7 linked regions of the Homo sapiens genome follow. The protein of the gene in region 1 purifies or fractionates together with the protein of each later gene. This does not show direct contact. Each region holds a gene or a part of one and is shown on either strand. Other genes may lie near its edges.

Region 1 (4,243 bases):
TACTCCTCTAGTAACACTACCTGGGTCAGACGGGGCAGTTATCAGTGACTCCCAACTTATAGCCTTTTCCTCTGGGTGTGTAGAGACTCTCAAAGATTTCTTCAGTAGACACGGTTTTTGCTTCTTCTCTCCTGTCCTGGGACATTTTATGATCCTGACCCCATTCTTACCCTTCCTACCAGCACCTGCTCAGCACGCTCTGGAAACAAAGAACACTCTATCCTCTCACTGTAAATTGACTGTAGAGTCCAGGCTAGGGACACCACGACATCATCCCTGTAGCTGCTAGTTCTTTCATGCCATCACTGAGCCGGGAGCCCCGGAAACTTAGCTTGGAGGAGTGGAGCAGTAGGGCATCTTAAAATGTTTTTTTGTTTGTTTGTTTTAGATGGAGTTTTGCTCTGTCTCCCAGGCTGGAGTGCAGTGGCGCTATCTTGGCTCACTGCAACCTCTGCCTCCTGGGTTCAAGAGATTCTCCTGCCTCAGCCTCCCTAGAAGCTGGGATTTCAGGCACGCGCCACCATGCCCAGCTGATTTTTGTATTTTTAGTAGAGATGGGGTTTCACTATGTTGGCCAGGCTGCTCTTGAACTCCGGACCTCAAGTGATCTGCCCGTCTCAGCCTCCCAAACTGCTGGGATTAAAGGCGTGAGCCACCGAACCCGGCAAATCTTAGAATTTTTGAGAGGAAGGGACCTTCAAGAGACAAACGCAGTTCAGGGACGTGGGGCTATTGCCCACAGTCACCAGTTGGTTCTCTTTTTTTGGGGGGGTGGGGGGATAGGGTCTTACTCTGTCGCCCAGGCTGGAGTGCAGTGGCACGATCTTGACTCACTGCAACCTCCGCCTCCCGGGTTCAAGTGATTCTCCTGCTTCAGCCTCCCCAGTAGCTGGGATTACAGGCGCGCGCCCCCAAGACCTGCTAATTTTTGTATTTTTAGTAGAGACGGGGTTTCAGCATGTTGGCCAGGCTGGTATCGAACTCCTGACCCCAAGTGATCCGCCCTCCTCGGCCTCCCAGAGTCCTGGGATTACAGGCGTGAAGCACTGCGCCTGGCCTAGTTGGTTCTCTTTTTCCCTGTCAGCCTGTAGCGGGAGTGGCTTGCTGTCAGCTCGGGTCCGACACTGCAGGGTTCCCGACCTCCAGCCTCGCCAGGAGAGCGCCGCGTTCAGCGACTCGGAGCCGGGTACCTCCTGCCTGCTGGATTAGGTAGAAGGAGAAGCTCAGCCAATCCTGAGGGCTCGGAGGCAAGGAAGGCGGGACGAAGAGGAAAAGTTGAGGACAGGAGCGTCACCCAATCCAACGCCTGACTGCAAAAGCGATGGCGGCGAGCACCCAATTGTAGACGGCAGTTAGAGGGAGGATGGTTAGTGGAGAGCGGACCAATCCGTGACAGGGGAGGGCAATCTTAAGCCAATTAAAGCTGAGAAGGTGGGAAGGGGCGGAGCTCGCCCTGTGGCTGCTCGGTGGTGGGTGAGGTATCAGCTTTCTCCGCTAGTTCCCACCCTGGTAGTCCTTAGCCCCTGGAATGCGTGAGGGAGATGCTTAGGGAGTTCTCGAAGTGGGGCGTAGAGGCATCGCCTGGCAAGGCCTGGGAGCGAAAAAGATCTCTACTTCGTGGAGCCGTTGGACGCTACCGGGTGGGCATCAAGGAAGCGGAGGGTGGCTAAGGGGCGGGACTTCCGGGGGCAGGGCTTATCGGACGGGGGTGGGGCCTGTTCTAAGGTTAGGCCGAGGTGGGCGGAGCTAATGGGAGAGCTTTGGGTGTGACCTAGGAGAAAGAAGGGCAGTAACTTAAGCGATTGTTTTGGAGTGGCAAGTGATAGTTAAGGGCTGATAAGGTTGCTGGGGAGGTTACCTGTCTTAACTCACTGCCCTTTTTTCTCAGGGAGCCACTGGTGGGGACCTTTTTTGGGCCCCCTTTCCTTCGTGGGGTACTATGGAGTTCCCAGAACACAGTCAGCAGCTGCTGCAGAGCCTCCGGGAGCAGCGGTCCCAGGGTTTCCTTTGTGACTGCACCGTGATGGTGGGTAGTACCCAGTTCTTGGCCCATCGGGCTGTGCTGGCCTCCTGCAGCCCATTCTTCCAGCTTTTCTACAAGGAGCGGGAATTGGACAAGAGGGATCTGGTGTGTATTCACAATGAAATTGTCACAGCCCCAGCCTTTGGGCTGCTTCTGGACTTTATGTATGCTGGCCAGCTGACCCTGAGAGGGGATACCCCTGTGGAGGATGTGCTGGCAGCTGCCAGCTACTTGCACATGAATGACATCGTCAAGGTGTGTAAGCGGCGGCTTCAAGCCCGGGCCCTGGCAGAGGCAGACAGTACCAAGAAGGAGGAGGAAACCAACTCACAGCTTCCTAGTTTGGAGTTTTTGTCTAGTACTTCCCGTGGCACCCAACCTTCGTTGGCATCTGCTGAGACATCAGGCCACTGGGGCAAAGGGGAATGGAAAGGCTCTGCTGCTCCCTCACCTACTGTCCGTCCTCCAGATGAGCCACCAATGTCTAGTGGGGCTGACACTACACAGCCTGGCATGGAGGTTGACGCACCACATCTGCGGGCACCTCATCCACCAGTGGCTGATGTCTCTCTTGCCAGCCCTAGTAGCTCCACTGAGACCATTCCTACAAACTACTTCTCTTCTGGCATCTCAGCAGTTTCATTGGAGCCACTGCCATCTCTTGATGTGGGTCCTGAGAGTCTGAGGGTGGTGGAACCAAAGGATCCTGGAGGACCACTGCAAGGCTTCTATCCCCCAGCCTCAGCCCCAACGTCAGCCCCAGCCCCTGTCTCAGCTCCAGTTCCATCCCAGGCTCCAGCCCCAGCTGAAGCTGAGCTGGTCCAGGTGAAAGTTGAAGCTATTGTGATCTCTGATGAAGAGACTGATGTGTCAGATGAACAGCCTCAGGGTCCTGAGAGAGCTTTCCCATCTGGAGGAGCAGTGTATGGGGCACAGCCCTCCCAGCCAGAGGCTTTTGAAGACCCAGGGGCAGCAGGACTGGAGGAGGTGGGGCCAAGTGACCACTTCCTGCCAACAGACCCTCATCTACCCTACCATCTGCTGCCAGGTGCAGGGCAGTATCATCGAGGACTGGTGACCTCACCTCTGCCTGCACCCGCATCCCTGCATGAGCCACTTTACCTGTCTTCTGAGTACGAAGCAGCTCCAGGAAGCTTTGGGGTTTTTACTGAGGATGTTCCCACCTGCAAGACATGTGGGAAGACCTTCTCATGCTCTTACACACTACGGCGACATGCCACGGTGCACACACGTGAGCGACCCTATGAGTGCCGCTACTGCCTGCGGAGCTACACGCAGTCAGGGGACCTCTACCGCCACATCCGCAAGGCTCACAATGAGGACCTGGCCAAACGCAGCAAACCAGATCCAGAAGTGGGACCCCTTCTAGGGGTGCAGCCTCTCCCTGGCTCCCCAACAGCAGACAGACAGAGCAGCAGTGGTGGAGGGCCACCTAAAGATTTTGTATTGGCCCCAAAAACTAACATCTAAGGGAGCATGAGCTGATGCTAGGCTGCTCTTACCATCCTTAGATGGCAGCTCAGAAGGTTGGTGGCACCTTATCACCCCTGCTGGGTGACAAGAATAAAGGCTCTGCCCAGGCTGAAAGTTCCTACCCTTTTTTTTTTTTAATCTTTTATTTTTTTGAGACAGAGTCTCACTCTGTCACCCAGACTGGAGTGCAGTGGCGCGATCTCGGCTCACTGCAAGCTCAGCCTCCCCGATTCACGCCATTCTCCTGCCTCAGCCTCCCGAGTAGCTGGGACTACAGGCGCCTATCACCATGCCTGGCTAATTTTTTTTGATTTTTAGTAGAGACAGGGTTTCACCGTGTTAGCCAGGATGGTCTCGATCTTCTGACAGATCTGACCTCGTGATCCGCCCATCTCCACCTCCCGCAGTGCTGGGATTACAGGCATGAGCCACCGCGCCCAGCTGCCTTTTTTTTTTTGAGTCTTGCTCTGTCACTGAGGCTGGAGTGCAGTGGCGCAATTTCAGCTCACTGCAACCTCTGCCTCCCAGGTTCAAGCGATTCCTTTTTTTTTTTTTTTTTTTGAGACAGAGTCTCACTCTGTCCCCCAGGCTGGAGTGCAGTGGCGCGATCTTGGCCCACCACGCCCGCCTAATTTTTTGTATTTTTTAGTAGAGACGGGGTTTCACCGTGTTAGTCAGGATGGTCTCGATCTCCTGACCTCGTGATCCACCCGCCTCAGCCTCCCA
Region 2 (3,388 bases), on another chromosome or scaffold:
ATGGTTTTTCTGTGTTTAAAATACCTGTAAGAAACATAAAACACCAGTGAAAGTAATCTTAAAAAAAAAAAAAAAAATCCCTGCCTAAAGCACAAAGGGCCTACGTTTTTGTTATTCCACCCCTTTTACTTTTCATACTCTGTGACTGGAAATGTTTTAATATCCAAAATGCTAGCAGCTTTTTCTCTTTCTATTCCCTTTGCCTTGCTGTAAGGTTGCAGAGCGAGGTTGAGAACAGACTTAATATCATGTAGTTACAGTCATTTTATGACATGACTTTTCATTCTTCTTAGTTTTTACAAGTTAGCACTTTGCATCTTTTAGAACCTCCACATCCTCAAACACAAACTATGCCTTTTCCACCCAGGTTTTCCTCAGCATCAGCCCAGTATTAGGCAGACAACAAGCTCAACAAATACTAGTTGAGATGAAATGGCTATTTTGTCTTTCTAGTGAACAGATCCTGTTTGAATACTTAAGAAAGCACAATAATACCCTTGTGGTTTCCTAGGGAAATGGTCCAACATCCACTGGCAAAAGATATGTTGCAGAATTAGCTGGCTTACCAGGCATGCCAAATATACGATACTACACAGGATGGTTGAATTTTATTAAATGTCATTCCAAAGCCAGACTTCACTGGCACAGTGAAAGGAGGCGTTCTTTTGAAGAGAACTGTGTCTTACAGTTTTGTTGCCTTCAAAATGGCCTTTTGTTCCAAATTATAAATTAGTATTTAAAAAAGTATCGTAACTTCAATGACATGTTATTTTTAAGGATAATTCAAATCAAAACCCATTATAAGTTTTTTAAAATTCACTTAAAAATGAGTTGGAAAAAATTTCATAAGCCTGTATAACCTCAGTGTCATTGAAGCAGTAATTGGACAATCCAGATCGCATTTCACATTGTGTGATGTGGACCAAAAAAAAGAGAGAGAGGCAAAGAAAGAGAGAAAGAACCACTCAGGGTTTGGCTGCGCAGCGTTTTTAGAGGCCTGTTTTCTAAGGAAGGAAAAGCACTTCGAAATACAGTGTAAGGTCAACATATTTGCTAGACCCGGGAGGTGAGCTGATTCCATATGAATCCCTATGGCTCTGTTATACCAAAAGAATATGAAATACCAAGAAATGGCAGTAAAGAAAGGAAGAAAATTTTTTCTTTTCAAATTCACTGACTTTCTCACTGAAAAGACCTTTCTTTCAGTTCCCTGCTTTTGCTGTGTCTTTCCTTGTTGCTCTTCCAAGCCTTTCATTGTTTAATGACGACTAATTCAATGGTAGGCAGAGAGCAAGGTATTAGAAAGTAAAAACTTCCTTTCCTAAGAAACCATTAGGGGGCTGTGGTTTGCCAGGGCAGGAGGTGGAAGGGAGCCCCATTTACAGTGGTAACTTCCTTTCCCTTTCCATCCTGGCAGGCTTCAGAGAACTTTACCAGCTGGTCGGTCTTTCGTTGCCATGGATACCAAGGATATCCCTCAGATTTTACAACAGATCTTCACCTCCACCATGTTGTCGAGTGTCTAAGAAGTGCCCTTCATCACCCTGATGACACCAGGATTTGAAATAAGACAGGAATAAAGAGTATTCTGAAAAAAAGAAGATATGGATGAAGTGAACCCATGCAGTGACTGGATGATTCCGGCATTCCTGGGTCTTCCTACACTTGCTCCGTAATGAGAATTCAGAGAAGCAGCCAGAAGGAGACTTAAACATGGAAAGATACTCCACTGATGAGTTTAGAAGTGATTAGGGCAAGCTAGTTGACCTGCACTTTATCAAAGGTTGGGGTTAAAGGAAGGTGGTTTTGAGAACTATGTGTTTGGTCTATTTCCAAAAACCTGAGGGGGAGAAAATACTTTGCTTTTGCCTTAACACATCATCTGGTCACGTTAGAAAAGTGACCCCATCAAACTGAGCCTTTGATGTCACATTCTGACACAAGATGCAAGTCTGTGCAAAACCCACCAAAATGCTCCTATCCAACAATTATTTTTATTTTCTCCCTGCTCTGTATTGACCAGAAAACAATGATTTTATAATATTTAACCCACCAAAAAGTCCCTCCAACAGCAATATCTTATGAAAGTCTGGCTGTTCTCAATAATTTCATTTTCTTGGCCAAAGCCAAAAGGAATCAAAAAATCCTTGGAGTGCTTGCCTTTCCACGTGACTTTTAAAAGGCTCTTAAAGAGCAAATGTCCTCTTCTCCTTGCTGCTAGAGTGGGAGGAGAAAGATGTCTTGCCTTAAAAGTTTACTGTTTCTTCTGTTCTTCTAGCATCTCTCAAAAAATTCACAGTACTCCATTTTGGGGTCCAAACTGTAATGCTCAAAATAATAAATGCTTACACGAAAATTATTTATTGAGAATATTCATATAAAAATTACCTAAAGCAAAGTAAAAAAAGTAAAATCAAGGTGGTATATTTGAAGTGAATGGTGATTGGAAATTTTTAGCTGTAACAAAAAGAAAGAAAACAACTTTTTTTAAAGCCTCATTCTCTTTTCTTTCAAAATGTACCTTATTCCCACACACTCTTGGGCTGACCTTTATTTTATCAATAAGCTCAATATTACTTTGTTTAAAATAAGATGCTTCAGCAAAAGTCATTCTCTCTTTAACCATATAATTTAAAAACTCCTCTTCACGATTGATAGCAAAATCAGAAACGTTAGGGCACCAGTGAGTTGAAAAAACTGGTCTTAAGTTGGAAAAACTATTATTAATAATATTATCCTATCCATCCATATCTATTGAAATTGTACAGGTCCATAATTTCATTTTAATTAATTATAGGAAAGAAGAAAAGATAATACCCATTTGTTCTATCACCCCTCTCCCTATCATTAACTATCAAATAAATAAATAAAAGCAATCTGATTTCCAACGTGGTACTACCTGGTGAGTTTGCATGGCTTTCTTGTTCCTCTAGTGAGACACCTGCTCCATGTATTGAACCATTCAATGATGCAAACAATTTCAATCCAACATGTATCTTTAAAAATGTAATTGCATTCCAACGGTCGCCACAACAGCAGCTAGCATTTACTGATGATTTACTGTGAACCAGGTATATGCTAAGTGATTGCATACATTATTTCATTCATCCTTACAACAATGCATGTAACAGGGGTATTTTTTACCTTATTTTGCAGATGATAAAGAAAGTGAGGCTCAGAGAATTTAAGTCACTTTCCCAAGATTCCTGTTACTAGACCTTTCACTAACTATTCATGGTACCATTAACATCCTCATTTTACAAGTAAAGAAACTGAGGCTTAGAGAAGTTCAAGAAAATAGGCCACACTCACAGCCAGGCAGGGGCAAAGCTGGGCCTCCAGCCTCCAGGCCCCTTAATGCCTTTGCGTCCCTCGCAGTCCCACGCCC
Region 3 (3,500 bases), on another chromosome or scaffold:
GAACCCAAGGTTGAGAACTGCTGGTTGTGGCTATGGGTCAACAGGCCATCTTTTTTTTTTTTTTTTTTTTTTGAGACATAGTCTAACTCTGTCTCCCAGGCTGGAGTACAGTGGCGCACTCTCAACTCGCCACAACCTCCACCTCCCGGGTTCAAGCGATTCTCCTGCCTCAGCCTCCCAAGTAGCTGGGATTACAGGCGCCCGCCACTATGCCCAGCTAATTTTTGAATTTTTAGTAGAGATGAGGTTTCACCATGTTGGTCAGGCTGGTCTCAAACTCCTGACCTCAGGTAATCCGCCCGCCTCGGCTTCCCAAACTGCTGGGATTACAGGCATGAGCCACCGCGCCCAGCCAATAGGCCAGCTTAATGGTGACTCCACTGGTCAACAATTTCCAGTATTTCCTTCCCAGTGTTCACCCCTCCCCACAACTCCATAAAAACGCCCCTAAAATTATAATATTTTATCACACAATTTAATTAAGTTAGAAACATTTAGCCAGCAGAGTTCATCAAACAAGTATGAGATCAGGCCAGGCGTGGTGGCTCATACCTGTAATCCCAGCACTTTGGGAGGCCAAGGCAGGTGGATCACCTGAGGTCAGGAGTTCAAGACCAGCCTGGCCAACATGGTGAAACACTGTTTCTACTAAAAATACAAAAATTAGCCAGGCATGGTGGTGCATGCCTGTAATCCCAGCTACTCACCAGGCTGAGGCAGGAGAATCACTTGAACAGCGGAGATTGTGCCATTGCACTCTAGCCTGGGTGACAGAGTGAGACTCCATCTCAAAAAAAAAAAAGAAGAGAGATCAGAGTGATTTTGATGGCTCACTATGTGCTAGGGTTGTACTGACTTAGCTTGGTTGGTAGGGTGGGTATTCATACGCTTTTTTTTTTTTTTTTTTTTGAGATGGAGGCTAGAGTGCAGTGGCGTGATCTCAGCTCACTGCAACCTCTGCCTCCTGGGTTCCTAGGTTCAAGCCATTCTCCTGCCTCAGCCTCCCAAGTAGTTGGGACTATACTACACCTGGCTAATTTTTGTATCTTCAGAGGAGACAGGGTTTCACTGTGTTGGCCAGGCTGGTCTCAAACTCCTGACCTCGAGTGATCCATCTGCCTCAGCCTCCCAGAGTGTTGGGATTACAGGTGTGAGCCACCATGCCCAGTCCACACTTTTTTATTTTTTTTAAGAGACAGGGTCTCACTTTGTCTTCCAGGCTGGAGTAAGTGATATGGCTTCCTGCAGCATCAACCTCCTGACTCAAGGGATCTTCCCACCTCAGCCTACCCAAGTGTAGCTAGGACTACAGGCCCAGGCTACCACAGCTGGCTAAACTAAATAAAATTTTTTTTGTAGCGAATGGGGTCTTGCTATGTTGCCCAGGCAGGTCTCAAAATCTTGGCTTCAAGCGATCCTCCCACCTCAGCCTACCAAGTCCTGGGATTAACGGCACTGGCATTAGTACGCACATTTTACAGATAAGGGAACCTGGGAGTTCAGAGAGGTTAAGTGATAACTGGCCTAAAGACAAACCATCAGGAAAGAATGAAACCAGAATTCAAACCCAGTCCACCTGCCACAAAGTCCCTGCTTTGCGGTTTCTACTGAAATAAGGTCATGCACTAACAACATTTTAGTCAATGACAGACCACGTGAACAAAGGTGGTCATAAGACTGTGATACCATATTCTCACTGTGCCTTTTCTATGTTTAGATATGTTTGGATACACAAATACTTACCATTGTGTTACAACTGCCTACAGTATTCAGTACAGTAACATGCTGTACAGGTTTGTAACCTAAGAGCAACAGGCTATACCATACAGCCTAGGTGAGTAGTAGACTCTCTCACGTAGCTTTGTGTAAGTACACTCTAGCATGCTGGCACAAGGACCAAACTGCTTTACTAAGGCAGTTCTTGGAACATATCCCTGTCATTAAGTTATGCATTAATGTACATGGAAACCTTGAAATACTGAAAGGTGGAAAGTGAAAACAGCCATTTCCTTACCTAACATACAGATAGCTGAATTTTGCATTCTTTAATGGCACTTTTTACAGGAAATCTGTTGTATGTATGTTTTAGTCTTACCACCTATTTTATAAAAATACATCTAAAAAAGAAGGGGAACCCCTTTATTAGAGCATGTATTCAATTTTTTTATTCAGAAAACATGATGATTTAAATACATCTGAAGCCATTTCTCCCCCAAAACAACTCTCAAAGCATTCTCAGGAGAGCCAGAGTCATAGCAGTCCTGGGCACAAGGTCCCCTTCTCATGCACAGCTTCAGGCAGCCAGAACCAGGGCTAGTTCAGAGAACTTCAGGAAAACAGCATCAGGATTTCATGGCCCTTAATACTGATTAAGATCAACTAAAAATTATTCTGCCGGTTTGATAAAACAAGAGGAAAGCTAAGATGAATACGCTAGAGAATAAATCTGGGGGACATGAGGAAAAAAAGCCTTTATAACTGCTGAAATAGGACACCTTAATCACAGGGTTTGGCTCAGGCAAACAATTTAATTTTTAAAACAACTAATCTAAGCCAGACATGACCGAAATTCACTGAAACTGGGTTCTAACAGCTCTATTCCAAGGAGGCTAAATGGGCTTTCCTGGTTCCCCCTACACTCAGAACAAACAAAGAAATGTCAATAATCTCATCCTTAAATAACCCATGAGCCAAGAGAACTAAAGATCAAAAGGGAGACTAAAGATCAAAAGATCTGCCTACCTGAAGAATGGCACATAGAATGAATATTTAGATGGAACACTGGGTTAAAGCAGATTTCTCTCCTTCTGAGACAAATCACATTGGGGGTTAAAATATGTCTAGGCCAGGCACGGTGGCTCACGCCTGTAATCCTAGCACTTTGAGAGGCTGAGGTGGGTGGATCACTTGAGGTCAGGAGTTCGAGACCAGCCTGGCCAACATGATGAAACCCTGTCTCTACTAAAAATACAAAAATTAGTCGGAAATCACTTGAACCCGGGAGGCGGAGGTTGCAGTGAGCCAAGATCGTGCCACTGCACTCCAGCCTGGGCAACAGAGTGAGACGAGACTGTTTCAAAAAAAAAAAAAAGTCTAAAACTTAGTTTAAAATACAACATACTTGGCCCGGCGCAGTGGCTCATGCCTGTAATCCCAGCACTTTGGGAGGCCGGGAGTTTGAGACCAGCCTGACCAACATGGAGAAACCCTGTCTCTACTAAAAATACAAAATTAGCCAGGTGTGGTGACGCATTCCTGTAATCCCAGCTACTCGGGAGGCTGAGGCAGAGGAATTGCTTGAACCGGGGAGGTGGAGGTTGTGGTGAGCTGAGATCACGCCACTGCACTCCAGCCTGGGCAACAAGAGCGAAACTCTGTCTCAAAAAAAAAAAAAAAAAAAAAAACCACACCAAAAAATGGTGATAAATGGCCAAAATGTGTATGTGTGCATTTATGTGTGTATGTGTGTATAAAGTGTATCTGAGAAGTCTGATAGGGAC
Region 4 (3,500 bases), on another chromosome or scaffold:
AATCTCCGCCTCCCGGGTTCAAGAGATTCTCCTGCCTCAGCCACCCGGGTTCAAGCGATTTTCCTACCTCAGCCTCCTGAGCAGCTGGTATTACAGGCACATGCCACCACACCTGGCTAATTTTTGTATTTTCACTAGAGACGGGGTTTCATCGTGTTGGCCAGACTGGTCTCGAACTCCTGACCTCAGGCACTCCACCAGCCTCGGCCTCCCAAAGTGCTGCATTACAGGCGTGAGCCACAGTGCCTGGCCTGCATCTTTGCTTTTCAAGGCTGTGCCTTTGAGCCTTTTACTGTGGGGATATAAAGGGTGTCAGATGAAGTTGAAGGGTCTTGACCCCAAAGTGAGGGGTACTTCAACATAGTAGTGAACAGGACAGGGTTGGGGGCTCATAGTGATATTGGGGACAGTGGCAAGGAGTGTTCCAGGGCCTGTGGGGATGCACAGTGGAGCAAGGAGGCTTCTTTAAGATCTCAAGGGAGCTACTGTAGGCTTGGGGGGTGGGGGACAGCCACCTTGGTACTGGGTGATGGGGAGGCACTGAATGGGCTTCAAGTACTCAAAAGCCTGATCTTCAGGTTTGGGAGTGAGAGTTCTGGCCCTGGAGCCCTGGCTGAGTGGGCACAGGGGGCTGAAATTGGCTCCTAAGAGCTGGGGATGGAGCCTACCTGGCAAGGGTGCTGCTGGATGGCATCAGAAAGATCCAGGTCACTGGAGGAGTCAGTGACCCAGGGGAGGACTCTGCTCCAGCCCTGCATGTGTGCACTTCCTCCTCGCTCTGAGCAGTTGTCCTCCTGCTGCCCCCTCCACAGGGATGACTCCGCTGAGGTGGACGTGTACAACCCGACGAGGAACGAATGGGACAAGATCCCGTCCATGAATCAGGTAAATTTTCAGGCGGGCCAGCATTGGAAGCACAGGCTGGTCCTGATTTTGCAACCCAAGTGTCATCGTGATGAGTGTTTGGGATCCACAGCCATGATGGGTGGGTCTCATCTCAATTAATAGAAGGCTGCTCTTACCCTTATTTTGCACTTAAGGCTCACTGAGACACAGATGTTAAGTAATACCCTATGATTACACAGCTTAGTACACATTTGAGCAGTGTTTATTGAGTATCTGCTGTGAGCCAGAGAGCAGAAGGAAGTGAGGGAGCAAGGCATACAGTCATCTGGGGACACCTGTTCCAGAGAGGGACAGCAGGTACAGAGGCCCTGCAGCAGGGCACCCTGGCGTGTTCTTAGATACACCAGCAGCCCATGTGGCCGGAGCAGAGTCAGCATGAGGTCTGTGACCTACCTTTTTTATTTTTGAGACAGGGTCTTGCTCTGTCACCCAGGCTGGAGTGCAGTGGTACAATCATGGCTCACTGCAGCCTCCACCTCCTTGACTCGCAGTCCTCCCACCGCACCTTCCTGAATAGCTGAGACTACAGGCGTGTGCCACCACACCCAGTAATTTTTTTTCTCATATGTAGATACAAAAGGATATTCTTAAAATTTTTATAGAGACAGGGTCTTGCTGTGTTACCCAGGCTGGTCTCACACTCCTGGCCTCAAGTGACCCTCCTGTCTCAGCCTCCCAAAGTGCTAGGATTATAGGCGTGAACCACCACGCCCAGCTGGTTCCTGAGGAAGTCAGTGTGGGAATACTTTTTTTTTTTTTATACGGAGTCTCGCTCTGTCACCCAGGCTGGAGTGCAGTGGCACGATCTCGGCTCACTGCAAGCTCCATCTCCCAGGTTCACGCCATTCTCCCGCCTCAACCTCCCGAGTAGCTGGGACTACAGGTACCCACCACCACGCCCAGCTAATTTTGTTTGTGTATTTTTAGTAGAGACGGGATTTCACTGTGTTAGCCAGGATGGTCTGGATCTCCTGACCTTGTGATCTGCCTGGCTCAGCCTCCCAAAGTGCTGGGATTACAGGCATGAGCCACCATGCCCAGCCCACTGTGGGAATACTTGTGTTGAGCACTTGCTGTGTGTTCTGAATAGGACAACCAGGGTCCACCCCTTCTCTCTGGGCTTGTTGAGAAGAGGGGTGCCCAGCCTGACAGTGATGGGACAGGGAGGCTTCAGTGCCATTTGGCCATGTGAGCAGTGTTAGTCTGAGGTACACATCATATTGCCTACAGCCTTCTTTCCTGTGTGTCTGTTAACATTTCCAAACCTACACTCCGTGACATCCAGCCTCACAGCTTACATCACAGCTTAATGTCCTGGCATTTAAGAGACCCAGCGTTCTGTTTTCCCCGCAGTAAGCTGCACATAGTCATAGCGAATTTGGGAAAGATGGAAGGAATCATCCAGCCTCGCGGTTCAGAGCCCAGCTCTGCCACTGTCAGCCATGCAAGCCTCAGTTTTCCCATCTGTAACATGGGGAGAACAGCACTGCTCAGCCCAGAGGGCCACTGCAGAGATTCTGAGAGAGAACGTAGGAAGCGCTGCTCGGCACGACCTGCACACGGGGAGGCCTGGCGCTGCAGCGGGCACCCTCATCACCATAGGGAAGGCCCAGCTGCCTCCGGGGAGGCCCGTTCTCCTAGGCAGGGTGTTGGAAAGGGGTTGGCCTCTCTGCTGCTTTCTGGGAGAGCCAAGGCCACCCCTCTGGGGTACTGACAGGGCATGCCTTGTCTCCAGTGGTTCCCCAGGTGGGGCCCTGCCCTACCCTCTCCTCTGACCTCCACTCACTCATCCCTTTGGCCCACAGGTACATGTGGGGGGCAGCCTGGCCGTCCTTGGGGGGAAGCTGTACGTCTCTGGGGGATACGACAATACATTTGAACTCTCGGACGTGGTAGAGGCCTATGACCCAGAGACTCGCGCGTGGAGCGTGGTGGGGCGGCTCCCAGAACCCACCTTCTGGCATGGCAGTGTCAGCATCTTCCGCCAGTTCATGCCCCAGACCTTCTCGGGTGGGCGTGGCTTCGAGTTGGACAGTGGCAGCGATGACATGGACCCAGGCCGACCCCGGCCGCCGCGGGACCCCGATGAGCTGCACTAGCCCCAGTCTGGCCCGGCACGGGCCTCGGTGCAGGTAACTGGCACCTCTGCGGGGCAGTGCCCCACTCCTTTGTGCACAAGGACACGTTGGGCTCACAGGAGGAGCACAGGCTCTTGGGTGGCGAAGCCAGCCCAGGATCCATTACCTGGAAGGTTTCTGTACCTTGAGAGCCTGAATCAGAGGCCGTCGGGAACGCCCTCCCTGCAGTTGAGGAAGAGCCACTTTCCTGCCAGCACATGTTTCTGGGTCTTGGAGGTCACCCCCACCCCGCGGATCACAGCTCACCCACGCGGCGCACACCCCTCCTGCCGTTGTCATCTGCACCTACTTGTTCCCACCTTGGGAGAGGACGATGACTTGGGAGGGACGCGTGAAGGGAGAAGGGGTCCTCCCATGAGGCTGAGGATGGCCTGAACCTGGAGCAGCGGACCAGGCAGACGGGCTGAAGTGGGGTCCCAAATTCCATGTCCAGAGGTGTGGGGAGCCTGCCTCCCT
Region 5 (3,500 bases), on another chromosome or scaffold:
CACCATGTTGGCCAGGCTGGTCTCGAACACCTGACCTCAGGTGATCCGCCTGCCTCGGCCTCCCAAAGTGCTGGGATTACAGGCATGAGCCACCGCGCCTGGCTGTCAGGGATTGCTTGTAAATGTACTGTAAGTAACACGACACAAGAAATGTAAAAATAGAAATGGTAAAGTCTCACTATAAGATTTAATTATTTACGATCTTTAGGAAATAAGTCACAAACTATTTTCTCTATTTCTTTGAAAAATATAAAAATTGGGCAAGGCATAAAAGTAACAATTACTTCCAAAGTTGATACTGATTTGCATTTAAAGCACCAATATTTGAACAGGTAATACTATAAAAACGTGTACTTAGCCTACACATTAGAGATAATACATGAGATGGCTTCTGAGGCACTATTTTTTTAAAAAGGATTTAGATACTTAAATTTGAAGTGCATGTGGGAAAAAAAAATTTTAACAAAGTATTTGCTCATTACCTGTATGTTTTCGAAGATGTTCTTTAAAATGTCCAAAATGGTCAAACTGTTTCTCACAGTACTGACATACATGAATTTTTTTCCCAGTTCTTTGCTTCTTACTGACTCCACCTTCTTCAAGGTGGTAACAATTTAGGTGCTGTTTCCATGCGCTCTCTCGAAGATATCGTTTATTGCATATTTCACACTTGAAACTCTCAGTGGAGTGTGATTTCATGTGCTCCTTAAAATGGTAAAACAATTTAAATGAACGGTTACATTTCTCACAATGGAACAAGTCCTTCACATGTGACAGCTGAAGTTCCACAATTTCAATACCTTCTACCTGTTTGCTCGTGGGGTCAGATGGACAGCCATCTTCTTTAATCTGCCCTTTTCTGTCACCTTGACGGTACTTGCTGGTAATATCTGCCAACAGTGCTAGAGCAGAATCATCAGAGGAACCTGTGCTCTGTATGTACTTTACGGACTGCTTGGCAGAAGCCACTTCCTCTAATGTTTCGATGCCTTCATCTTCCACTTCAATGGTGCCTTCGGCAATCTCTACCTCAATTTCAACAGGTTCTGATTCTGCAGATGGCAATGACTCAGTGATAACATTTGAAGTTTCTGCAATCTTCCTTTTTTTGGCCTCATTTTTTCCTGTGGTATTTTCCTCTAAGGGAGCTGAGTTTTCTTTGTTCCTGAAATACATAATGTAGGGGTTTAAAAAATCTATAAGAAGATCCTACCAGGCTTTTTTGAAGAAACTGATAAAGTGGCAATAAAATTTATATAAACAGTTATAAAACAAGACTGCAGGGCTTATCCTACCTGATTTCAAGACTTAAAGCTACAGTAATTAAGACAATAGTACTGGTGAAAGCATAGACACGAAGATTAATGGAATAAAGTCCATGGAAATAGACCCACGCTTAGTCAACTGATTTTTATGGGGGAAAAAAAGGTGCCAGTCAGGTGCAGTGGCTCATGCCTGTAATCGCAACACTTTGGGAGGCCAAGGCAGGTGGATCACCTGAGGTTGGGAGTTTGAGACCAGCCTGACTAACATGGGGAAATCTCGTCTCTACTAAAAATACAAAATTAGCTGGGCATGGTGGCATGCCTGTAATCCCAGCTACTCGGCAGGCTGAGGCAGGAGAATCACTTGAACCCAGGAGGCGGAGGTTGGGGTGAGCCAAGATCGCACCATTGCACTCCAGCCTGGGCGACAAGAGCGAAACTCTGTCTCAAAAAAAAAAAAAAAAAAAAAAGTTCCAAGCTAATCATTTAACAGTGATGCTAGAACAATTATGTGTATGGGAAAAATAAGCCTCAACCTTTACCTCATATCATACATGAAAAATTAATTCAAAATGGGTCACAGACCTAAATTTAAGAATTAGTAAATTTCTAGAAGAAAACAGGAGAAGACCTTAGTGACATTGGTTAGTGAAAGATTTCTCATTCTCTCACCCAGGCTGGAGTGCAGTGGTGTGATGTTGGCTCACTGTGGCTTCAACCTCTTGGGCTCAAGTGATCCTCCCACCTCAGCCTCTCAAGCAGCTGGGACTATAGATGCGTGCCATCACACTCAGCTAATTTTATTTTTGATAGAATCGAGGTCTCACTATGTCACCCAGGGTGGTCTTGAACTCCTGGGCTCAAGTGATCCTCCTGCCTCGGCCTCCCAGAGTACTAGGATTACAGACATGAGCTACTGTGCCCAGCTGACAGATTTCTTCTTTTTTTGTTTTTTTTTTTGTTTTGTTTTTTTGAGATGGAGTCTCGCTCTGTCACCCAGGCTGGAGTGCAGTGGCGTGATCTTGGCTCACTGTAAGCTCCGCCTCCCAGGTTCACGCCATTCTCCTGCCTCAGCCTCCCAAGCAGCTGGGACTACAGGCGCCCGCCACCACGACCAGCTAATATTTTGTATTTTTAGTAGAGATGGGGTTTCACCGTGTTAGCCAGGATGGTCTCGATTTCCTGACCTTGTGATCTGCCCGCCTTGGCCTCCCCCAAAGTGCTGGGATTACAGGCGTGGGCCACCGCGCCCAGCCTGCCCAGCTGAAAGATTTCTTAAACAGCATAAGAAAGGCAGAAATCATAACAGCAAAAATTGATAAAATAGATTTCATCAAAATTAAAAACTGCCCTCTGAAATACAGTTAATAAAAAAGCAAGCCACAGGCCAGAAGAAAATAGTTGCAAACATTTATCTGTCAAATTTTTTGTTTGGTTTTTTTTTTTTTTTTTTGAGACAGAGTATCTCTCTTGTGGCCCAGGCTGGAGTGCAGTGGCACGATCTTGGCTCACTGCAACCTCTGCCTCCCGGGTTCAAGTGATTCTCCTGCCTCAGCCTCCTGAGTAGCTGGGATTACAGGCTCCTGCCACCATGCCCGCCTAATTTTTGTATTTTTTAGTAGAGACGGGGTCTCACCATGTTGGCCAGGGTGGTCTTGAACTACTGACCTCAGGTGATCTGCCCACCTCGGCCTCCCAAAGTGCTGGAATTACCGGTAAGAGCCACTGTGCCCAGCCTAAAGATCTTATATCTAGAGTGAAGAAAGGATTCTCACAACTCAGTAAACTCAGTAAAAGACGACACCTGTTGGGAGACAATTCTCCTTGAGTCTCTTCAGTTTCCTCACATCTTGTGAACTGAAAACTTTCGGTTTGGATGTTTGCAGTATAGTATAGTAGATGAAAGGGCAGGTTTATTGTCCAATATAATAAAGAGAATGCCCCCACTCTGGAAAAAACGTTAGGCAGGTTTGTTTGTAGCCCACTATAAAAATTTTGAGATTCCTAAGCTGGAGATTCTTCAGCTATAATATAAATCAATCTTATGCATTCACCTGGGCCACTCTATGTCACTCTTGTGGGACTTGAGGGGAAGGGAAAACTGGTATAAAAATGAAATTTATACTGCTTGCTATGTAGAGAGTAATAAGGTCCTTTCTTTCTGACTCAGAAGTCTTCTATCTTCTTCCAGCATCCATGACACTGTGGCAGGAAAACTTGTAGGCTTGCAAGTAG
Region 6 (3,500 bases), on another chromosome or scaffold:
AAACTCCTCCTGGGCTCAAGTGATCCCCTGCCTCAGCCTCCTAAACTTCTGGAATTACAGGCATTACTGTAGACTTTATATAGCTTATAAAAATACTTTCTTTTTATCCTTATTCTATAAGCTTTTTTTTTTTTTGAGACGGAGTCTCGCTCTGTCACCCAGGCTGGAGTGCAGTGGCACTGTCTTGGCTCACTGCAAGCTCAGTCTCCTGGGTTCACGCCATTCTCCTGCCTCAGCCTCCCGAGTAGCTAGGACTACAGGCGCCCACCACCACGTCCTGCTAATTTTTTGTATTTTTAGTAGAGACGGGGTTTCACCGTGTTAGCCAGGATGGTCTCAATCTCCTGACCTCGTGATCCACCCACCTTGACCTCCCAAAGTGCTGGGATTACAGGCGTGAGCCACTGCGCCCGGCCTCTATAAGCTTTTTTATATTATATATATATATATATATATATATAACTTATTTATTGATTTTTTTACTCGTTAAACTTTTTTGTTAAAAAAGTAAGACACAGACATACACATTAGCTGAGGCCTATACAGGGTCAGGATCATCAATGTCAGAGTCATCAATATCACTGTCTTCCACCTCCACATCTTGTCCCACTTGCAGGCTTTCAAGGGCAATAACAGGCATAGAGCTATCCTCTCCTATGATAATAATGCCTTCTTCTGGAATACCTCTTGAAGGACCTGCCAGAGGCGTAGATTTATTTACAACAGCATCACCAGAAACACATGAGAATGCTTTATGCCATGTCTTTAAAACAGCTACCACAGTATCACTAGGTGATAGGACATTTTCCACTCCATTATAATTTTATGGAGATCATTGTGCGTGGTGCATGGCTGTGTTTGTGTGCACGTCTCACCCTCTCTTAAGAGCACAAAGAGCCTTCCTTTTTTATTCTTTTGTCCCTTATAGCACTTAGCACAGTACCTTGCATTTTACCATCAGTAATAACAAAAACAACAATAAATTTAGCCCAGGGTTCACTGCAAAAAAGAACAAAAGATCAATCTAAAGATGTGATTTTAATTAATACGTAGGTGTGGGAAATGCTACTGCCTGTGTCTTACATGATGTTATCTACGTCATTGGTGGCCACTGTGGCTACAGAGGAAGCTGCACCTATGACAAAGTTCAGAGCTACAATTCCGATATCAACGAATGGAGCCTCATCACCTCCAGTCCACATCCAGGTAACAAAAATACTGTCTCAAATAGTGTATGTTGTGATGTAGTTTAGTAGCATAAAGGATGGCTAAAAATGGACTGGAAATAGAAAATGCTGATTTTATTGTAGACTACACATGGGTAGAATTAAAAGTCTCAAAATATTCATATATGTCCATCTAACAATAATCACAATGAGATTCTGATTGGGTCACATCTACAAATATTTTCCCTGATGTCTTTATACAATGCACATTGTAAGTCTGTGTGGTCAAAAATATTAGCGTCTTTAAAATTTTTTTCCTTTATATGCCATCTTTCATTTATGACATTAATTATATAAAATACAATGTTCATAAGTAGTTGAAAAGCACCATTCTATCAAATAGTCAGAAAGGGTACCCAGTGATTGAAGTTCAGCTAGAAATTGTTTCCTGTTTTAGAAGCATGTTCTTTCTAGGTTTCACTTACTATTAAGCACTCACTCCTACAATGTGCAGAGCCATATGTTGGCCTTACCTTAACACTCATACAGGGAACATGCTGTCTGCCCATAAGGAATGGCCTACCTTCTTGGATGTCTTCTGTTCTTTGACTTGTGTCTTTGTGAAGAGCTCAGAGGGAAGCACAAGTTTTAGTCTGTTTCAGTTATGCCATAGGTTTAAGTTGTTTTCATTAGGAAAGATTCATATCATCGTACCACCATGTTACCTTGAATCATTTTCCATAGAGCATCAGGCTTCCATGTGGGTCAGTGGAGGGGGTAGTGGAAATTCACAAGCTGGAACCATCTGAGAGGACTAGTAATACTTACCATAGATCAGGCACTGGCTAAGCACTTCATATGTGTATTACCTCAGATTCTCACTACAAGTCTGTGAGCAGGTATTGTTTGTCACCATTTTACATATTTGGAAATGGAGGCTTAGAAACAATAAGTAACTTTTCCAAGGTCACAGTTTCACAGTTTGAAAGTGGTAGACCAGGGTTCAAAATCTGACAGTCTGATTCCATAACTTGTGCTGTAGCCACTAAACAATCTGTCTCTCCTTCAGGGAGCAGACTCTCCTGCTTTCAACCAAGGCAGCTACTTCCAGCCCATACATCATCTATCCCATATGATGGTTAATCTGAAGCACACCTAAATCTGGTGCTGCATCTCCATATGCCCAGGCTTTGCATGAGAAGGAACTTTAGCCCCAGGCTTCCCTGGCTGCAAAGACACCATGGAATGGGTAAACTTCTCCCTCCTAGTAGCCCAAATGGACCATCCCAGACTCCCCACCACTTTCTGCTGTGATCAGTGAAGTTATAATGGAAAGGAATAGTAACAACTCACAGTGAGAAATAGCTAGCATTTATTCAGTCAGTGTGTGGCAGGCACAAACTATTCCAGTAATTTTACATGTATAATCTGTTTAAACCTCAAAATAATTCCATGAGCTAGGTACTGTTTTTATCACATTTTATAGGACACTGAGGGTCAAAGAGATTATATAAATTGCCCAAGGTTAGCCAGCTAGTGCTTATTAGAACTGAGGTTCAAACCTAGACAGACTGGCTTGAACTTCACTATTATCTCACCTGAACCTCATGTTACCCTTAGAAGTTAGATGTTACTCTGCCTATTTTGTGGATAAGCTTATCTTTACAAAGAAAATCCGATACATGAAAAGTCAGAATTCACAAATTAGAGGGCAGTTATTTATATTATAAATTTAATGTATATGTCATTAAGAGTTTCCCTCAAAAATAAGTTTTCCATAACAGATTTCATATAGCTTATTAACTACATGAAAAAGAGTCTGAGAGACAGTGTCACTTTGGACTTAATCCAAAGTATTAATAAGTCATGGCAAATTGAAAATCCAAAATAAATGTTAAATTATAATATAAATCAATGGTAACATAATATGCATCCACATGTAGTTTTGATTTACATTGAACTTTTTCCTGATGAAACATAAAAAACAGATTTTAAATCAGTACCTTGCATGATGTGTTCTGTTTAGCTTTCACAGTCCTTAAAATATTTTTGAACTGGCTTGTTACCAATATTTAAAATTTAAGAGAATTTCAAGTAAAAATCATTATTTCTGTCCTTTAAAAGAAAAGGGAAGACCTAGCAGCCTTGGATGTATTCCTTCTAGGCAGCAGTCACGGGAGCCAGGGGGTAGCTGTTCCCCTAAATGAGGCTTGTGTGCTCCGTTTCACCACAGTCCTTCCAATTCTCCTCACGTCACTGACCTAGGGGGCCTGTGCCGTTGTTTTTCTTGCTCCCAGCTGGCTTTGCTCAGCTAGTCTGTTAAATCCTTAAGCT
Region 7 (3,341 bases), on another chromosome or scaffold:
CTGGACAAGAGGAAAAACGGCCACTGCTGAGGATTCAGTCAATGGGGAATGATGCAAATGATGCACTGGGAGCAGTAACCCCATTTCTTTCCTTCCTCAGCCCATCCTCTGTGGCTTTCATGGCCCTCAGGGCAGTAACCACACTCTGGGCCAACACTACAGGCACAGGATTCTTGATTTTAATAAATAAATAACCTAACACACAGGGTGAGCACGGCAGGCAGCTTTGATTGGAGAAGCAGCTTGCTGAATTCTTTCTTGTATAGTAGTGGAGAAAAGGCTTGGAGTTCTATTCCTTAAAAATTCTGGTTTGAGTTACAGGAACTTAATACCTGGAGGGAAAAAGAAAGATGAGACTGTGATGTTATCAGCTAATGGGGATGCTGGGACATGAAGAGCCTGCCTAAAGGTGTAACAGGGAGGCAGAGACTTTTCTGGAGTGTACAGTGACAGGAAATAACTGTGTTTCCTTTTCACATCATTGAAAAAGGCCAATATTTCTCCATAAAGAGATAAAAATCATAGCAACAAGATGAAATGGGGAAAGGAATTGAGGAAGGGGAACTTTATTTAATGAGGCAAATAGCCACTTACCCAAACTCCACCTCTCTATCTCCAAAAGGCAAATTCAGGAAGGGGAATACTATTTAAGGCCTTGAAGAGTCTTTTGAAGGTGGCAGTGAGGGGAAGTGGGTTCATTTTTCTGAGTTCATGTAAGCATATGTGGTTGGGGATGCAAAGACCAATTCCAGTGCAGGAAGCTCATCACTGCCCAGGTGTCCCTGATTTCTGGGGAGCCCAAGGCACCTGTAGTAATTAGGCTTGAAGGGCCCATTCTTGTTGAGTCCCAGATACTTGGCCTGTTCATCTGTCAGCTCTGTCAAGTGGGCATCAAAGGTAGGCAGGTGTAGGCTGGCCACATACTCATCTGGAACAGACCACAGAAGCCCTGGTATAAGCATTCATGCCTTTTATCTGATGGCTATTGTCCCCAAGCTAGGCCTTAAAAAGTTCAAAGACACCTTCTAATTCCTGGAGCTGAATGAAAAATGTTCAACCTTCGCTCACTGGTCCTCAATTCTAAGGAATAGCTGCCTTCAGCTTCAAGCCCAGTGCTTTCCAAAGCCTTAATAATTCATCCTTACTAACTCAGCTTTGAACCCTGCCTTCCAGAAAAGTGCAGGAGAGATGAAAGAAACAACAGGCATTAAGATTTAAAAGAAGGAATAGGATAATGTGGGAACTAAATAATGGGAAGCTCCAACTTGAGTTTTGCCTTGGACTCCATACTTTGGGTCATTTAAAACAACTAATGCCTGGGGAAACTTGAATGGAAAAACTAAGAAGGATACTAAATGGGATAAATGAACTGTTTGCTTTGCTTTTAGTACTCTTAATTCTTATGGGTTTCTGTTCACATTCTATTATCTGACTACATAGTACTTATTCATAATCTTATGTCATTTCCTATGTATTTGTTTGGTCTCCCAACTTCATTATACATTCTGTCAGAATATGGACTGTGCTGTTGCTTTTATATCCTTCTAAAGTGTCTACTAAAGGGAAAATGTATCAACTTTTAACAGTTGTTATATACCTAGTGCTAAGGCAAAACAAAACCAGAAGCTTATTTATTACCTGATCTTTGCCTGAGGAGTTTATAAACACACTGTATCAGTTCAGGTGCTTGAGGCAGGCTCTTTAAAAATTTAAGACAGGTTAATGTTTCTCTTATACAAAACACCCACATAACTAAATAGCTCCTATTCCACATCTCTCCTTTGGCCTGAAGCACTGGGATTGGTGTTGGAAGGTGTAGTAAGAAAGTCTTGTGTCGTCTGAGAAAAGTTTGGTAGGGGCTATTTGGCAGCCTAGAATTGGAGTAAGTCAGATGTCACAAGGTAGGAGATGATTCTTCTCTTTTAAGGGAAGATTTTTTTTTTCTCCTTTGAGATTCCCACATAAAGATACTTTAAGAAAAAAAAAATCCTTAAAATTCACAGGCAGGTAAAATAAATCACAGCATAATATCACAACTTCGCTAGGGCAACACATGTAGAAAATGGGATAAATAAATGGGAATGGCACCTAGGAATCCTAATTCCTACTTTACAAGATGAAGGTACCTTTTTTCCCCCATCCTTAAGTAAGTTAATGCCCCCAAACTTCCTTTAACCTCAGACTCTGAACTACTTTGGTAAGGATGGAGATGGAAGAGTAAATACTTACCCATCTTCTTGGGCAACAGGTAGACATCCTGCTTATAGCGACCCTCAGGAGCATTGTAAAGCTCTATCAAGGCAAGAGCCTAGAAAAGCAGAGAGATGGATGCTGATGTGCCATTCATGGCAATCTACCCAAGCAAGTGAAACCTGGTGGGTCTGAGGACCTTCTCCAGACTACTGCTATCCCACTCTGGAAGCCTTACCTGAGTAGTAGCAGTGATTGAGAGCACAAATGTAGGCACTGTGGAGCAGCTAAGGTTCAGCAGGCGGCCCTAGTGATCAAAGGTGAAGACACAAATGGATTAGGACAAAGTCGCTGGCCTTTGAGAAGTGAGGGAAGAGAAGCATGACCACCATTTTCCAAACACTTCCTGACTAACACTGCTGGAAAAAAAGCAGCTATTCAATATATAAGAACTAACTGACTGACATTTAAATGAAACCACTAAAATTCTGGAAAATCTGATGAAACTAATAGCTAAAAGATTTCTGGAATTATTTAAAAAGGAATACAGATGGTCATATGACACTGAGGCTTATGCCAAATATCAGTGTACTTCTCTTGAATTTTCCACTCTCTATAGCAAAATATCCTCCTTCTGAGGATCGGCATTTCTTTTAAAGACTGTCTTGAAATAAACAATGATCAGTCAAATCCAGGGACAATCTCTCCAGGTTGTGAGGGGAGGTATATTTGGACTTAGGAAGCTGTGATGATTGATTGATTGATTGATTGATTGATTGATTAGATGGAGTCTCCCTCTGTTGCCCAGGCTGGAGTTCCATGGCATGATCTTGACTCACTGTAACCTCTGCCCCCTGGGTTCAAGTGATTCTCCTGCCTCAGCCTCCAGAGTAACTGGGATCACAGGTGTGCGCCACCATGCCCGGCTAACTTTTGTATTTTTTTTTTTTTTTTTGTAGAGACAGGGTTTCACCATAGCTGTGATGATTTTTGTGCTTCTCCTTCAGTTTGCTTCTCCTGAATTCAAAGACAGCATTGTCAGCCTTGTATTTTGAGTTGGTGATTCAGACAGTAGAAGAACTAGAAATTGCCCCCAATGCCACCCTTTCCTATTTTGTTTCCTATGAAGCCTGACCACCTTTTTGCTCAAC

The links.
Region 2: the proteins of ZBTB3 (region 1) and VWA8 purify together in Homo sapiens (affinity purification with mass spectrometry, with the first as the bait; one large-scale study listed by BioGRID). This does not show direct contact.
Region 3: the proteins of ZBTB3 (region 1) and SMYD2 purify together in Homo sapiens (affinity purification with mass spectrometry, with the first as the bait; one large-scale study listed by BioGRID). This does not show direct contact.
Region 4: the proteins of ZBTB3 (region 1) and KLHL21 purify together in Homo sapiens (affinity purification with mass spectrometry, with the first as the bait; one large-scale study listed by BioGRID). This does not show direct contact.
Region 5: the proteins of ZBTB3 (region 1) and ZNF131 purify together in Homo sapiens (affinity purification with mass spectrometry; 2 studies listed by BioGRID). This does not show direct contact.
Region 6: the proteins of ZBTB3 (region 1) and KLHL23 purify together in Homo sapiens (affinity purification with mass spectrometry, with the first as the bait; one large-scale study listed by BioGRID). This does not show direct contact.
Region 7: the proteins of ZBTB3 (region 1) and AHCYL2 purify together in Homo sapiens (affinity purification with mass spectrometry, with the first as the bait; one large-scale study listed by BioGRID). This does not show direct contact.

What each region holds. Positions count from the first base shown.
Region 1 is NC_000011.10:62,751,361-62,755,603, reverse strand, and holds the start of ZBTB3 (zinc finger and BTB domain-containing protein 3), read left to right. Parts: upstream 1-1,443; 5' UTR 1,444-1,640; intron 1,641-1,888; 5' UTR 1,889-1,939; coding exon 1,940-3,514; 3' UTR 3,515-4,243.
Region 2 is NC_000013.11:41,566,335-41,569,722, reverse strand, and holds the end of VWA8 (von Willebrand factor A domain-containing protein 8 isoform a precursor), read left to right. Parts: intron 1-1,327; exon of another isoform or gene 1,328-1,417; coding exon 1,418-1,526; 3' UTR 1,527-2,888; downstream 2,889-3,388. UniProt on the Homo sapiens protein: Exhibits ATPase activity in vitro.
Region 3 is NC_000001.11:214,284,159-214,287,658, reverse strand, and holds part of SMYD2 (N-lysine methyltransferase SMYD2), read right to left. Parts: intron 1-3,500. UniProt on the Homo sapiens protein: Protein-lysine N-methyltransferase that methylates both histones and non-histone proteins, including p53/TP53 and RB1. Specifically trimethylates histone H3 'Lys-4' (H3K4me3) in vivo. The activity requires interaction with HSP90alpha.
Region 4 is NC_000001.11:6,592,870-6,596,369, reverse strand, and holds part of KLHL21 (kelch-like protein 21), read left to right. Parts: intron 1-812; coding exon 813-885; intron 886-2,259; coding exon of another isoform or gene 2,260-2,262; exon of another isoform or gene 2,263-2,711; coding exon 2,712-3,005; 3' UTR 3,006-3,500. UniProt on the Homo sapiens protein: Substrate-specific adapter of a BCR (BTB-CUL3-RBX1) E3 ubiquitin-protein ligase complex required for efficient chromosome alignment and cytokinesis.
Region 5 is NC_000005.10:43,158,914-43,162,413, reverse strand, and holds part of ZNF131 (zinc finger protein 131), read right to left. Parts: intron 1,166-3,500; coding exon 483-1,165; intron 1-482. UniProt on the Homo sapiens protein: Plays a role during development and organogenesis as well as in the function of the adult central nervous system. May be involved in transcriptional regulation as a repressor of ESR1/ER-alpha signaling.
Region 6 is NC_000002.12:169,740,332-169,743,831, forward strand, and holds part of KLHL23 (kelch-like protein 23), read left to right. Parts: intron 1-1,053; coding exon 1,054-1,206; intron 1,207-3,500. Other genes in the region: PHOSPHO2-KLHL23 (kelch-like protein 23), read left to right, coding at 1,054-1,206.
Region 7 is NC_000007.14:129,424,030-129,427,370, reverse strand, and holds part of AHCYL2 (adenosylhomocysteinase 3), read right to left. Parts: intron 2,498-3,341; coding exon 2,429-2,497; intron 2,309-2,428; coding exon 2,230-2,308; intron 929-2,229; coding exon 808-928; intron 333-807; coding exon 326-332; 3' UTR 1-325. UniProt on the Homo sapiens protein: May regulate the electrogenic sodium/bicarbonate cotransporter SLC4A4 activity and Mg(2+)-sensitivity. On the contrary of its homolog AHCYL1, does not regulate ITPR1 sensitivity to inositol 1,4,5-trisphosphate.